Homo sapiens: one gene and its partners. The protein of the gene in region 2 purifies or fractionates together with the protein of the main gene of each other region. This does not show direct contact. Each region holds a gene or a part of one and is shown on either strand. Other genes may lie near its edges.

What was found. The genes of interacting proteins can lie anywhere in the genome.
Region 1: the proteins of CLRN2 (region 2) and KLRG2 purify together in Homo sapiens (affinity purification with mass spectrometry; one large-scale study listed by BioGRID and IntAct). This does not show direct contact.
Region 3: the proteins of CLRN2 (region 2) and DIPK1A purify together in Homo sapiens (affinity purification with mass spectrometry; one large-scale study listed by BioGRID and IntAct). This does not show direct contact.
Region 4: the proteins of CLRN2 (region 2) and CA12 purify together in Homo sapiens (affinity purification with mass spectrometry; one large-scale study listed by BioGRID and IntAct). This does not show direct contact.

Annotation. Positions count from the first base shown.
Region 1 is NC_000007.14:139,473,674-139,477,173, forward strand, and holds part of KLRG2 (killer cell lectin-like receptor subfamily G member 2), read right to left. Parts: intron 139-3,500; coding exon of another isoform or gene 97-138; exon of another isoform or gene 1-96.
Region 2 is NC_000004.12:17,513,872-17,517,964, reverse strand, and holds the start of CLRN2 (clarin-2), read right to left. Parts: upstream 2,801-4,093; 5' UTR 2,699-2,800; coding exon 2,446-2,698; intron 1-2,445. UniProt on the Homo sapiens protein: Plays a key role to hearing function. Required for normal organization and maintenance of the stereocilia bundle and for mechano-electrical transduction.
Region 3 is NC_000001.11:92,954,963-92,958,462, forward strand, and holds part of DIPK1A (divergent protein kinase domain 1A), read right to left. Parts: intron 1-3,500.
Region 4 is NC_000015.10:63,343,847-63,347,346, forward strand, and holds part of CA12 (carbonic anhydrase 12 isoform 1 precursor), read right to left. Parts: intron 2,864-3,500; coding exon 2,684-2,863; intron 1,821-2,683; exon of another isoform or gene 1,774-1,820; coding exon 1,631-1,773; intron 565-1,630; exon of another isoform or gene 292-564; intron 1-291. UniProt on the Homo sapiens protein: Reversible hydration of carbon dioxide.

The DNA of each region.
Region 1 (3,500 bases), on a different chromosome or scaffold from region 2:
ATAAGAAAAGATGGCATCAGCCAGGTACAGTGGCTCACACCTGTAATCCTAGCACTTTGGGAGGCAGAGGTGGGCAGATCACCCGAGGTCAGGAGTTCAAGACCGAAAAGATGGCATCCATGAAACAAGAACAGGACACTGTAAAAAAGGAACATTTGAAAGGTCAAAACAGTTCTAAAAATTAGAAACAAGGCAGCAAAAATGTAAATGAAGAAGAAAAAGGCCCACAGGGCATATTATTAAATTTCGGAACACTGAGAACAAAGAAGACACTGAAATTTTCCAGAGAAGAAATAAAAATGAATGACATACAAAGAACTGGGAATCAGAGTGGCTCAGACTTTTTTTTTTTTTTTTTTTTGGAGACCTAGTCTCACTCTGTCACCCAGGCTGGAGTGCAAGTGGCACAATCTTGGCTCTGCCACCTCCACCTCCTGGGTTCAAGCAATTCTAGTACCTCAGCCTCCCGAGTAGCTGGGACTACAGTTGTGTGCCACCATGCCTAGCTAAATTTTTGTGTGTGTGTATTTTTAGTAGAGATAGGGTATCACCATGTTGCGTAGGCTGATCTCGAACTCCTGACCTCAAGTGATCCATCTGCCTTGGCCTCCCAATGTGCTGGGATTACAGGCATGAGCCACTGTGCCCCACCTTGGCTCAGACTTCTTAATGGCAAGACTAAGAGCTGACAGTCACGGAGAATTCTGGGGAAAAGCGATTTTCTACCTAGAATTCTATACCCAGATGTGATATTATGATATCTATGTCTCTATCTCCATATCTCTATCTAAAATAATGTTTTTGGCTGGGCATGGTGGCTAACACTTGTAATCCCAGAACTTTGGGAGGCTGAGGCAGGTGGATCATTTGAGGTCAGGAGTTTGAGACCAGCCTGGCCAACATGGTGAAACCCCATCTTTACTAAAAATACAAAAAAATTAGCTGGGCATGTTGGCACACGCCTGTAATTCCAACTACTTGGGAGGCTGAGGCAGGAGAATTGCTTGAATCCAGGAGGTGGAGGTTGCAGTGAGCTGAGATCGCCCCACTGCACTCCAGCCTGGGCGACAGAGTGAAACTTTGTCTCAAAAAAATAAATAAATAAAACAAAATAAAATAAAATAAATGTCTTGTCCACAGTTCCTGGCTTATAACTCCCATAGCCCTTGACACAGGATTTGTTATAATGCTGTGGTGCTCCAGGCCTCAGATGCAGGCCCAGACCTAGGAAATAGAATCTCTCTCTCTGACCTTCTGCCCAAGGCAGGACTCTAATCTGCTGTGGGTCATAAGACCCTATTCTAGGGAGGGTCCTGGCCCATCTCTGAAGGAAGGAATGCTGCAGAGACAGGCCAAGAAGAATTGGAGCAGACAGGCCTCGCTGGGTTTCCTGCCTAGTCTATTAGTATGAGATCAAATCCTTTCTGCCCAATCAAATCTTGACACAGTTGTCCCTGCTTTAGTCATGCCTGTCCAACGAAGTCTCCACAAAAGGCCCAACAGGACAGGGTTTGGGGGCTTCCGGATAGGCTGAACACATAGAGGCTAACAGGAAGGTGAGTGAGAACTTGTCCCAGGCTGGGCGCGGTGGCTCACGCCTGTAATCTCAGCACTTTAGGAGGCCGAGGCAGGCGGATCACGAGGTCAGGAGATCGAGACCATCCTGGCTAACATGGTGAAACCCCGTCTCTACTAAAAATACAAAAAATTAGCCAGGCGTGGTGGCGGGCGCCTGTAGTCCCAGCTACTTGGGAGGCTGAGGCAGGAGAATGGCGTGAAACTGGGAGGTGGAGGTTGCAGTGAGACGAGATTGCACCTCTGCACTCCAGCCTGGGTGACAGCGCAAGACTCTATCTCAAAAAAAAAAAAAAGAACTCGTCCCCGTGCTGGGGGGGTGGCGGCACACCCCACCCAGCTCTATAAGGACAGAATCTCCTGTGCTTGGGACTCTTCCAGATCTCACCCTGTGCATCTCCTTTGGCTGTGTGTTTGTATCATTTAAAATACCCTTTGTAACAAACCAGTAAATGTGTTTCCCTAAGTTTTGTGAGCTGCTCTAGCAAATTAATCAAACCCAAAGAGGGAACGTGGGAGTCCAAACTTGAAGCCAGCCACTCAGAAGTTCCAGAGGCCTGGACTTGCGACGGGCGTCTGAAGCTGGGCAGCCTTAGGGACTGAACCCTCAAACTGTGGGATCTGAAGCTATCTCCGGGAAAACAGCATCAGAATTGAATTAAATTACAGGACACCCAGCTGGTGCCCACTGCTTCGTGGGTAAGAGAAAAAAAAAAAACACATTTGGTCACAGACGCTTTCTGGGTTGATTGTTGTTGTGTAAGAGCAGAGGAAAGACAGTTTGAGTGTTTTTCCTACACACCAGCCAAGTGATTGTTAGCTTGGAGGTTAGAATAAAAGTTCTTTAAGCACGAAAGGTCTCAAGAAATTGAGGCCAGGCACGGTGGCTCATGTCTGTAATCCCAGCACTTAGGGAGGCTGAGGCAGGCGGATCGCCTGAGTCCAGGAGTTTGAGACAAGCCTGGGCAAGGTGGCAAAACTCTGACTCCACTGAGGAGACTGAGGTGAAACCAACGAAAAGACATGCGACCTAGGAAACAGGGAATCCCACGGAGGAGGGAGGCAAAAGGCATACTGAGGATGCAGGTAAATAGAAATTCCAGAACAGCTGTGCAGCAGGCCTGGTGAGCAACAGGTCCAGACTGGAACAGAGAAGAGAGGATTCCAGAAGGCTCTCTGGCCCGGTGTCACTATCTTTTTTTTTTTTCCTTGAGACAGAGTCTCACTCTGTTACCCAGGCTGGAGAGCAGTGGCGCGATCTTGGCTCACTGCATCCTGTCTTCTGGGTTCAAGCGATTCCCATGCCTCAGCCTCCCAAGTAGTGGGGACTACAGGTGCATGCCACCATGCCTGGCTAATTTTTGTATTTTTAGTAGAGACGGGGTTTCACCAGGTTGGCCAGGCTGGTCTTGAACTCCCGACTGCAGGTGATCCTCCTGCCTCCTCAGGCTCCCAAAGTGCTGGGATTACAGGTGTGATCCACTGCACCCGGCCTCACTATCTTTTCTTGAATGTTTTTGGAAAGGCACATGCTGCCTTGCTCACCTTGACCTTCAGGTCACACCCTCCTGTCATTTACTCTCGTAGCACTGTGCACCGTCCCTTCACAGCACAGATCAGTGTGGTCATTAAACATCTATTTCTGTGATTTCCTGATTGACGTCTGCCTCACTCACTGCTGTCTTAGCTTTGTCAAGGTGGGGGCTGTGCTATTCTGGCTCATTATTGAATCCCCCTTGCCAAACACGGAGTAAGTGCTTAATACACACTCATTAAAGCACTGACGGAAGGAGTGCTGCGTTTTCATACATACCAGAACAGCGAATATAAATTCCTGGCACCTGCCCCCAGGTAAAATTAAGCCAAGGATTGCTGGGAATGTAAAATTGCACAGCCCCTATGGAAAACAGTATGGCAATTCCTCA
Region 2 (4,093 bases):
ACTGTGCTAGAATTAAAAGCTGTAAATCTAAAGGAGACTAGACTGGCACTATCAGTGTCCCTGAGCTGTACTGGGGTAAAGCCAGCCAAGCACAGGAGGAACCTGGCCCCAGGCTCCTCGTGAATGCTTTGAAAGAGAATCACATCCAAGGTACTGCGAATGGATGTTTACAGACCCTCCTCTGAGACAACCCCAGGGCAGCAGGAAACAAAACCTTCTCAAATACGCTCCTACTCAGGGACAAGAATAAAATGTCCTTTATGCTTCTCACAGGGTTCTGATGCTTTCCAGACCAGACCACGTTAGATGAACCCAGGGGAATGTTTCCCATTGGTGTCCTTCTAAGAAGGAAGAAGGAGGAAGGCAAGAAGTACTTACTGAGTTCCTCCAAGGCTCAAACAAAATATGCATTTGTTTGCAGCTTCCTACTCGAAGCAGTTTACATTTCTGTGAGCTGGGAATGGCAGGGGTCTGGTCATTAGGTTAATGCTGGCATGTGACTGCTGTTTAATCTTCTCACCCCATTCAAGTTTCAACGATTTACCTGTTGGGGTTCAGAAACCAACACCCCTAAAATATGAAGCTTTGTGAAGAAGTCTCAAGGTCTCTCTGGCCTCCCCTCTCCCTCGTGTCTCTCCATTCTTTGTCTGTCTCATAAGCACAGGATGAGGTTGTTCTCTGACATTCCCTTACCTGCCTACATCCAGACCTACCAAAGAAAAAGACCTCTGGTCCCTTCCCTGAGTGTTCATTAATTGTACCCATATCACAGGAAGAAAGACTAAAGTCTGTTAACACAGCTGGACAGACTTTTGTCACAAACCAATGTCTGCTCTGTGGGCTCAACAGACTTTGTCCCAGCTCACTGTATGTTCTTTAAGCCCATTGAATTTCCCTAAAAATAATTTACTAGTCCCCTAAAATCATCCACACTTCCCCATCTCTCTTTCCCCTAAGATGAAGAGGATACAACCACCTGTACCCCATTGAGATAGCGGACAATCACTCTGTGATTTTTCCCCTATGCATGCTAATAAATGTGTAAGCCATTTTCCCTATTAATCTGCCTTTTGTCAGTAGATTGTTTAGAGAACCTTCAGAGTGCAAAGGGGAAGTTTTCTTGACCCCTAAAGTCCCGAAGACATCCTTTATAGCAAAGCATCTAGTTCAGAATCGAGTAGTCCATGTAGTTGTCATGGTTAGCTTTTAGCATTTCTTTTTTTTATTTGTTTATGTGTGTGTGTTTTCAAGTTTTATGTTATAATTTTGATGGAGCTATTTGTTCAATATCCAGGGTCTAATCTAATTGCTAGGTAAATATAAATATGCCCAGACATATTGATCTTGAATATACATAACAAATGTAAATTTTTGTGTGTTTAAATGATGACAATTTGTATTATATTTGTCAACGGTTCCAGCTTTTTGTCCTTATAAATTTAATACGACATTTACCTTGGCCAGATTTCTATAAACTACTACAATACTGAAATATAGAAATCAAGGAATGAATACAATTCTGTATCACCCTACATTGGCATGGTATTGATTAATTACGGTTTTGTGCAGACACTTTTCACCAGTGATCTCATCGATTCAAAAGGCTTGCAGAATATTGCCTGTTTTGTTTTTTCCTTTCCAGAAGCCCGTTCCTAAGTCCAGCTTGGATTCCTGTTTGTGCAGACTGCTCTGCTTACATCCTGGGCAGCTCTGATGCTACACTGAATGCCAGCCAAAGTCGGTGCCCGCTCACGTTCACAGAGAACAGGCAAGTGCCTTGCTTGAGGTCTCCCCACCAGTAAACTTTCCAGTAGGGGTTTCAGCCAGGGTAGTCTGATTCCAGAACCCAAGCACAGTGCCCCTTTGCATTTTCTCAGACTATGAAGCTTTTACAAAAGTAGATGTGGAAAGGGTCATCATGCTTCCCAAAGGTTCAGTTCTGCAGGCAGCCTCCACCCACTTGTTGTGGTCATGTGGCATGGGTCTGGAGTCCGGCTCTACTGTTTCCTGGCTGGGTGACCTCAGGTAAGTTATGTAACCTCTCCAAGCCTCAGTGTACTCCTCTGGAAAATGGGAACATTAACAATTCCTTCTGTATAACTTTGTTGTAAGGCTTTAAGGAGACAAGTGGCGTGAGGTGCTTACAATGTCTGACACGTGTAAACTCTCAATATTTTAATAGTCATAATTAATAGAGGTAAACTGCAAAAATGCACAAATCCTTATTTCTAATGTTTCTATACATCTCTACAGAAAAAGAAAAGGAAGCAAGGAAGGAAGGAAAGATCTTTTTGATGTGGATCCAGAACCCTTGGCTCACTGTGGACTTTGACATTATGCCTGACGTTGAGGCAGCAGCCAAATTCCACAATGAGACATAAGCACTCTTACACATTAACAAAAATGAGTGCCTAGAATCAGCTTTCATGCTCCCAATATACTCACTCGTGAATTGGGATTGGCGGCCCCCAAGCCCACACTGCCGCACTTTACACCCTCGGAAGAGCCCGTAGTAAATGTCCCCAATGAACTTGACCAGCTCTCTGTCTGTGGCGTTGACCAGATCCACTCCAGTCTGACAAAGGATTTTCCCACTCAGCCAGTGGGGCACTACCAGGGCAACGATGATCAGGATGAAGGAGGAGAAGCTGAGTAAAGACGCCAGCCCATACCACGCCTTTTTGAACCATCCAGGCATGCTAGTGGGTGCAGGTCATCCCCAAGGTCTCCGAGCAGCAGCGAGGGTCATTGACATCTTTCAGATACTCGGCAATGCTCTGCTCCAAGGTCAGCTCTTCCAAACACTCTGTTTCAAGGTTGTAGGTCCATCCTCTCGTCCTCCTTCAGCGCAAGCTTGCACAGTCCATGCTTCCTACAACCACATCCAGAAGCCTCTACAGAGACAATCTTCACCTGACTATGTAGCGGAGTGTGTTACTGAAGGAAGTAACCTTATATCTCCTCCTAGACTAATGTTTCAGCAGACTGTTTAACTGTTCCTCGTTTCAAGTATTTAAATAGCCCTGGTGTGGACCTCGTAATGATAAAGGAGTTAGTAATAAGCAAAATCAGGTAGCTCTGAAGATTAAGAGACGCAAACCAATCTCAAAAAATGCATGTGTTAGAAGGAAAACAAAAACAGAATGATTAGCACTTGAATATTGCCAACAATGCGCAGTATCAAATGTCGATCTCGCTGATGCATGGGTGCCCTGGCATTTCTTTCTCTGAAATGTCACTGCTGTCAGAATCTTTAGGACTGTTATTAATACCATCAAATGACCCCGGTTCTTGGGGCTTTAATATTGAAATGTGTAAATAGGGCCTTATGAATTTCTCACTGTGTGAATCTGCTGGGGGTAAACTGTGACTAGAATTACTTTGTGGCTGTTGGGGTAGCCTGGAATCCAACACTTAACATTGCTCTCACCCGTCCCTCCTTCTACGTTATCTGAAATGGGAGAGAAAAGTGTTTTTCTAGTGTATTAGCAAATAGTAGCCACACTGCTGGGGTATTCATCTCTTCTAATAGTGGAAGATCTAGGCTTTCCTTTTAATCTGTAGATACTAGGAATGAAATATTCTTTCCTTTCTATCTTATACTGTGGACTTTGACATTTTGACTTTTACCTTATTCCTGAATATCAACTTAACATCATGTGAGACTGGCAACAGTCACTCTATCCATATCTCTGGGGAGCAAAGTTGGGCAAAAGTGGAGCAGTAAAATTTCTTAGTTGGTCACAGAAGCCTGAAGGGGGGTTCAGGAAGTTGCACTGTTAACCAATAGGGGTCCCAGGAATCTCACTTGGAGAGTGTCAAGGAAGCAGAGGGACACATTAATGGAAATGTCAGTTTCCTTCCTCGCAACTGGGGCTCACTTCAGTGGCCACTCCACAATGAAAATAAAAATGAGAATTTCTGAGCCTGGGCAATGTAGTGAGACCTTATCTCTACAAAAAATAAAAAAAAAAAATAGTTGGGCCTGATGGCGTGTATTTGTAGTCCCAGCTACTGGAGGCTGAGGCTGGAAGACTGCTCCAGCCCAGGAGCTCAAGGCTGTAGTGAGCTATGATCATGCCACTCTGAGTAA
Region 3 (3,500 bases), on a different chromosome or scaffold from region 2:
AAACTGTGGTACACCCAGACAACGAAATATTATTCAGCGTTAAAAAGAAATGAGCTATTAAGCCATGAAAAGCCATAGAGGAGACGTAAATGCATATTACTAAGTGAAAGAAGCCTATTTGAAAAGGCTACCTAAAATACTACGTGATTCCAACTAGATGACATTTTAGAAAAAGGCAAAACTATGGAGACAATAAAGACCAGTGGCTTTTGGGGGCTCAGTGGGGACAGAAGGATAAATAAGCAGAGCACAGATTTTTAAGGCAGTGAAACTACACTCTATACAATAATGATGGATACATGTCATTATGCATTTATCCAAACACACTGAATGTACAACACAAAGAATGAACTCTAATGTAAAACTATGGACTTTGGGTGATAATACGTCAGTGTAAGTTCATTAACTGTAAAACATGTACCATTATGTGGGGGATGTTAAATATAGGGGAGGGGGCTGGGCACGGTGGCTCACGCCTGTAATCCCAGCACTTTGGGAGGCCAAGGCAGGCAGATCACGAGGTCAGGAGATCGAGACCATCCTGGCTAACACAGTGAAGCCCCGTCTCTGCTAAAAACACAAAAAATTAGCCAGGAGTGGTGGCGGGCACCTGTAGTCCCAGCTACTTGGGAGGCTGAGGCAGGAGAATGGCATGAACCTGGGAGGCAAAGCTTGCAGTGAGCTGAGATCGCACCACTGCACTACAGCCTGGGTGACAGAGTGAGACTCTGTCTCAAAAAAAAAAAAAAAGAAAAGAAAAGAAAGAAAAAAGAAAAAAAAATGAAAATAGGGGAGGGGCCAGGCACAGTGGTTAATTCCTATAATTCCAGCACTTTGGGAGGCCAAGGCAGGAGGATCACTTGAGCCCAAGAATTCAAGACCAGCCTGGGCAATGCAGTGGGACCACTGTCTCTTAAAAAAATATTTAAATTAGCTGGACTTGGTGGGATGTGCCTGTAGCTACTCAGGAGGCTGAAGCAGTAGGATCACTTGAGTATGGGAGGTAGAGGCTGCAGTGAGCCATGATTGTGTCACTGAACTCCAGCCTGGGTGACAGAGGGAGATCCTGTATCAAGAAGAGAAAAGAAAAGAAGAAAAGGGGAAAAAAAAGAAAAGAAAAGGAGGGAGGCTATTCATGTGTCAGGACAAGGGGTATATGGGAAATCTCTCTGCATTCCTCTCAATTTTGCTGTGAACTTAAAATGGCTCTAAAAACTTTTAAATCTTTAACTTAAAAAAAAAATCTGAGGCACTGAGAAGACTACAGTGAAGAAACACTTTTACTGTATGGTCCAGTTTGAAAGAAATGTGGTAAGGATGCAATCTGCCTGAGAATTCACCATTTCTTTGAGCTTCTAACAAAGGTTCAAAAGCAACTAATGGTAATATCAAGTGGCTCTCTGTACACATACCAGTCTCAGAAAGCTAATCATAGTTCTGGAGATTAAATTTCAGGCAAAGGCAAAAGCTAATCTCTGAACAGCAGGTCTAATAAAGTTAATGAGAACTATACAAACTACAGATCTTCTCCCTCTATTGTCTTTGGAGGATAGAGAACAACCATAGGCTCTAATTATCCTTAGATTTAAAATAATCCTGGAGACTGAAAATGGGCAAAAAGCCCATTTTTACTACAGTATTTGGCAACATTACTACTATTACCAATTAATCTGTATCAGTAACCCTGTCTGGCACTAAATCTCACAAAATATCCACATTAACTCATAAGGAACCAAACCATCCACAGCAGTCATGTTTGAAAAATTGTACTAATACGAGCCAAAGTGCCAGGTATCAGAAATGTTAAACAAGTGCAAACACCCTAGCTAGAACATGCCATCTACCCATTCACTCATAACAACCCTACTGAACACATACTGAAATTGCTAGGGCAGTCATTTTCAAGAGGATACTTCTAAAACTTTAAGCCCCTTACAAGCAAAACGGCTTGAAAACCTTCAAAGGACCCAAGTACATGGGACTTCAAATTCCATTAGAACTGCACCAACTTTTCATATGCAACAGAACACATAGGCAGAATGATTGGAATGGAAAATGTGTATAATCTAAGTACAGAGAATTATGCTGAATTGTCTTGACTTTCATTCTTTCAGGACTTAACGATGGTGAGAAGGAAGAAGGTATTTTAAACCAAAACCAACAAATTATAGGGTTGCTGTGTTATCAGCTTCACTCAGACTATGAGTAAACCCTAAACAAAGTAGATCTTAGTTTGTAGAAAACACACTGCTAAAAAAAGACAAATGCAGGTGTCATTCTGGGTTATCACACCCAAGCAGGCCACAAGTAGTATGCACCATAATGGCACGTGGAAGAAAATACTGCCTAAAAATGGTTTAAGCAGTTAATACATCCACAGTTTCTGATCTCAGAGGCAGGATTCTACTCTGTTCAATGTGCTGCATCATTTAGCCAGTCCAGGAAGTGTTATTTCCCAAGTAATGTTTCAACAAAATATCTGGAAAACATGGAACTGTAAATTAGCTTGCTTGCTCTGGGCAAGATGCCTTGCCATGAGAAGCTTGTTGCTCAGGTAAACGTCTGTTGGCCCTTCCAGGCAGGTCACAAGTCCTTCTAGCCCACAGAGAGGCTGCACAGACTAACAGTGTGCCTGCCCAGCTCCCCTGGAAGAAGTGCTCCCTGCACCAAAAAGCTGACCTTGGTGGAATCTGCAGCAAAAGGCAGAGAGAAGAAGGACGACTTTCATGAGATAAACTCGGTTCATTTATTTTTCAACTGTTTTATGGAGATATACTAATAATTCACATATCCTACAATTTATTCATTTAAAGCATAACGTTCAGTAGGTTTTAGTATATTCACATACTTGGGCAACCATCACCACTATCAATTTTAGAACATTTCTGTCCCCCTCAAGAACACTTCATATCCATCAGTAGTTACTCCCCATTTCCCCCCAGGCAACCACTAATCTATCTTTTTGTCTTTATAGATTTGCCCATTCTGGACATCTCATATGAATGAAATAATACGTGATCTTTTGTGACTAGTTTCATATATTTAATGTTTTTAAGGTTCATCCATGTTACAGTGTGTATCAGAACTTCATTTCACTTTATTGCTGAATAATATTCTGTTGTATGCATATACCACACAAGTTCTTTTCTTCACAGGCAGTAGAATCTCTTCTGCTATATAAGCAAAGCTATAAACAGTGAATAGGTGCCTGCATTAGCTCATGAATGTCTATTATGGCTGAAAATATATCATTAATTGTGTAATGCCACAGTTTTCCAAAAGCGTTACCAAATGCCACAGTGATATCTGGATTAATAAAAATACTGAGAATGAAGTTCCTTTACAAGTAAGCTGACTGCTTAAAAGTTTTCTCCTGTACACTGCAGAAAAAAGGGAACTCACAGCTCCTAAGGCCTGAACACCTCAGGACATAACTGGTCTTTGACCCCATCCAGTTAAAGACAAACAGCATAACTGCAAGTATACAAAGCTGGTCTCTG
Region 4 (3,500 bases), on a different chromosome or scaffold from region 2:
GCCAAAGAGAAAAGTCAAGCTGGGAGCTGCCTCCCATTCTATTCCTAAATAAGACGGCTACAAAGATAAAAAAGCAACACACCTCACATTTTGCCCACTAGGAAATTCACTGTGGGCCGCAAGGTCTTTACCCTAAAACAGTTCTGTTGAATTTCACCGTGACAATGTAAATGGATAACTTATCTTCATGGGTTCAGGACAAAGGATAGAACTCAAAGTCATCCCTCTGCTCACCTGAGACAAATGCATTTCTAATTGCTTCCTCTGCCCATGTCTGTTTTATTTTGTAAGAATGCAGATTCGCTGAGCTAGATGAATGCACAAGTGACTATTCCTCTACCCCTCTCTCACATGTGAACGGCTGATCAAAAACTCAGAAGAATGCGACCTCTTGCCTCTTACCTCCCCACACCTTTTAAACATTTCTCCCTCTTTCCCCAGTGTCTGCCCTTTCCCCTTTAAATATTGAAGCCCTCAAAATCATCTTTGTAGAAAGGCACAGACTTGTCTCCCTGTCTCCCGGGCATGTGTCCTTAACCTTGGCAAAATAAACTTCTAAATGGATTGAGTCTCAGACACTTTTTGGTTTACACCTTCTTTATTCCCCATGGGGGAAGCAGAAGTCTCAACACTGCAATTAGCCTGGAGGAAATTTCAGTTCTTGAGCTTCAGGGAAGGGCCGCTCTGAAATATGTGAACCTCCAGTGGTACCATCCTATTGAACCAGATCCTATCCCTTCCATGCTTGCAAGTAGACCTATGATTAGTCTGAAACATTAAGCAGTTCAGCAGTTATGACTGGAGGGGAATGGTCTCTATTTACCACGGACTCCCCTGGCTGATCAGTCAGCAGCATTTATCTGCTTGTATTTCCCTGTAAATATTCAGAGCCACACCCCCAGTTCAGGGCTATTGGAGTGCCAAAATGGAGCATCTCAACCCCCTCCTTGCCCCACCCCATCCTGCAATTGCATAGGACAAATGCTCTGCCCGTCTTCTAATTTTCTTTTGGCATTTCGGAGTAGCTTCTCAAGGCAACATGACACGATGCTGTGCTGGCTGACATCTTGTCCCTAGTGAGTCTGCTTGCCGTGATGCCCTGCACATTAGACTGCCAGGTACCCCTAGACTTGTGGCCAGGTAGAAGGGTGGCCCTAGACCCATGTCCCCATGTTCTAAACACAACCCATGCCCAGAGAGGGAAAGATAGCATCAAAATGATGCAAACAGCATGACATATGAAGAAAGGCTGAGAAGTTTGGGGGAGCAGTGAGCCCAGTGTGAGTCAGCAGGAGATTTTTATCTGCACAGATAGGAAGGCAATGTCTAAAAGAAGGGCATGTATGTCCCACTGGGCCACCCTGGGAATACTGCCTCCCCAGCAGCATCACTCAGTAAAAGACACAGGGACAAACTTAGCATGTTCAGGAGAAGAAAGGGACCAGGACAGTGCAGATGAGCTACAGGCTAGTGGAGTGGCTGCGCCCCTTGTGCCAGGGCCAGAGGTGGGGCAGAGAGCCTGAAGGCAGCCTGTCCCATGCTCTGGTGTTATCTGCACAGCAGCCAGGTCGAGAAGGTGCCACACCACCCACTGCAGAGCAGCCTCTGCCAGACTGGCAGCCCTACTTACCTCGGCGGCGAAGTGCTGTCCGCTGACGGTGTGCTCAGAGCCGTGCGGGTCATTCGGGTTCCCCCAGTGCAGGTGCAGCTGCGTGGCACTGTAGCGAGACTGGAGGCCCTGGATGTGCATGTCCGAGGGCAGGTTCAGCTTCACTGCGGGGAGTGGAGGAGCAGCCTTCAGAGCCCCGGCCAGCTGTGCACTGCCAGAGAGCAGTCAGGTAGGCAATGCTCCCTCCACCCCTGCTGCCACCCCCTGGAGCCCAGAGAGAGGCAGGTGGATGGAGTGAGGTGCGGAGCAGAGATGCAGCCTAAAGGTCAGACACCTGGGCTCTTTCCCTGAGAATGTTCCCTTTTCCCCAAAGCAACTCCAGTGGCACCAGCACCTTCTTGGTTCACCTTGGAAAGTGATGCCAGAAACGCTAACACTAGACCAACGGATGGGTGTTTATTTACATATTGATGGATCAGACACCTTTAGTGAAGTACCTTCCAAGCTTTAGAATTATATAGCAACAGCAACGATAACTGCTATTTATGAAGCATTTACTTCACTCTGTATGCCAGACCCCAACGTACATAATCTCCAGTCTTCACGGTATCCATCAATATGTCCATTTCCAGATGGAAGCTCAAGGAGACTAAAATTCTCACCTAGATTCTCATGGCTCGTAAGCAGTCAAGCCAGAGTTCAAATCCAGGTTGGTCTGACTCCAAAGCCTGGGCACCCCCCGCCAAACTGTGTGGTTCCTTGAATCGTTTATGGTCCAGAATTCACTCCAGCTGCACAGCCAATGAACTACAGTGCTCAGGCCGGTCTCCTGCCCCATCCTGAGAGATGTGCTTCTTCTGGGAAGTGCGGCCCTGGCAGGATCCTCAGAGCCCAGAGCCTCCAGCATCCCCTGGAGAGAGTGCTCCTGGAATCTCTCAAAGACACCCCCGCCCCGCCCCACCCCTCCTCCTGGATGCTTCCACGGAACACCTCCCTGCCAGATGGAAAAGGACAGGCCTGGCAGCTGAGGGAGACTCAGACATACCCCTCAGGTCTCCAAGGCCTCTCCCTCACCTGAATGGCCATTGTTGGTCAGGAGAAACTGCTTGTTGGCAGACAGATTGTAGCCTTGGAACTCGAGGGGCGTGAGGCTGGCGTCATACTGGAGGATGTCACTGTGCAGGTCTATGGGGGACTGCAGCAGGCCCCCACACGACGGGTACTTCTTGGACCAGCTATTCTCCCCATCAGGACCTGGACACAGAGATCCATGCTCAAGATTTAGAGTTTCTCACAAAGGGATTTTCCTTATCTTCTAATTCTCTGTTCAATACAATTACTCCTTTTCTCCTCTTTTCTGAATCCCCGGAGGTAAATCTTCAAGGCTCAGAGTCTTGGCCTCCAGAATCAGGTCCAGCAACCACTCAGGACCACCTGCTCTTAAGTGATGTGGGGAAAGAAGGACTAGGGCTGCACAGGCCAGAGCCAGAAGGCCACCGAACTCTGCTTTATTTTGTACATTGTTCCTGTTTGACACACACGTCAAGACCTGTTGACTTTCAGCAATTCAGCATCTGCTTAGCCAGTACCTATTATGAGCCAGGAATTACTCTGGGTCTTGGGGCTGCCAGGTTGAATACAATAGAGCCCCTGCTCATCCAAGCTGGCATTCTAGCGGGGAAGAATTTAGCAAATCTGCGGGGCCACCCCAGGTGGGAAAAATTAGTGTCTTACTGACCACAGTGCCAAGTATTATCTTGGTGCAAAAATAATTGCGGTTTTTGCCATTCCTTTCAGGCAAAAACCACAACTGCTTTTGCACCAACCTAAATAGGTCTTTGTGGCTGCTGGCTTTGCAAGTATGACCTTCCTGAAGAGAAACCCCTGAGGA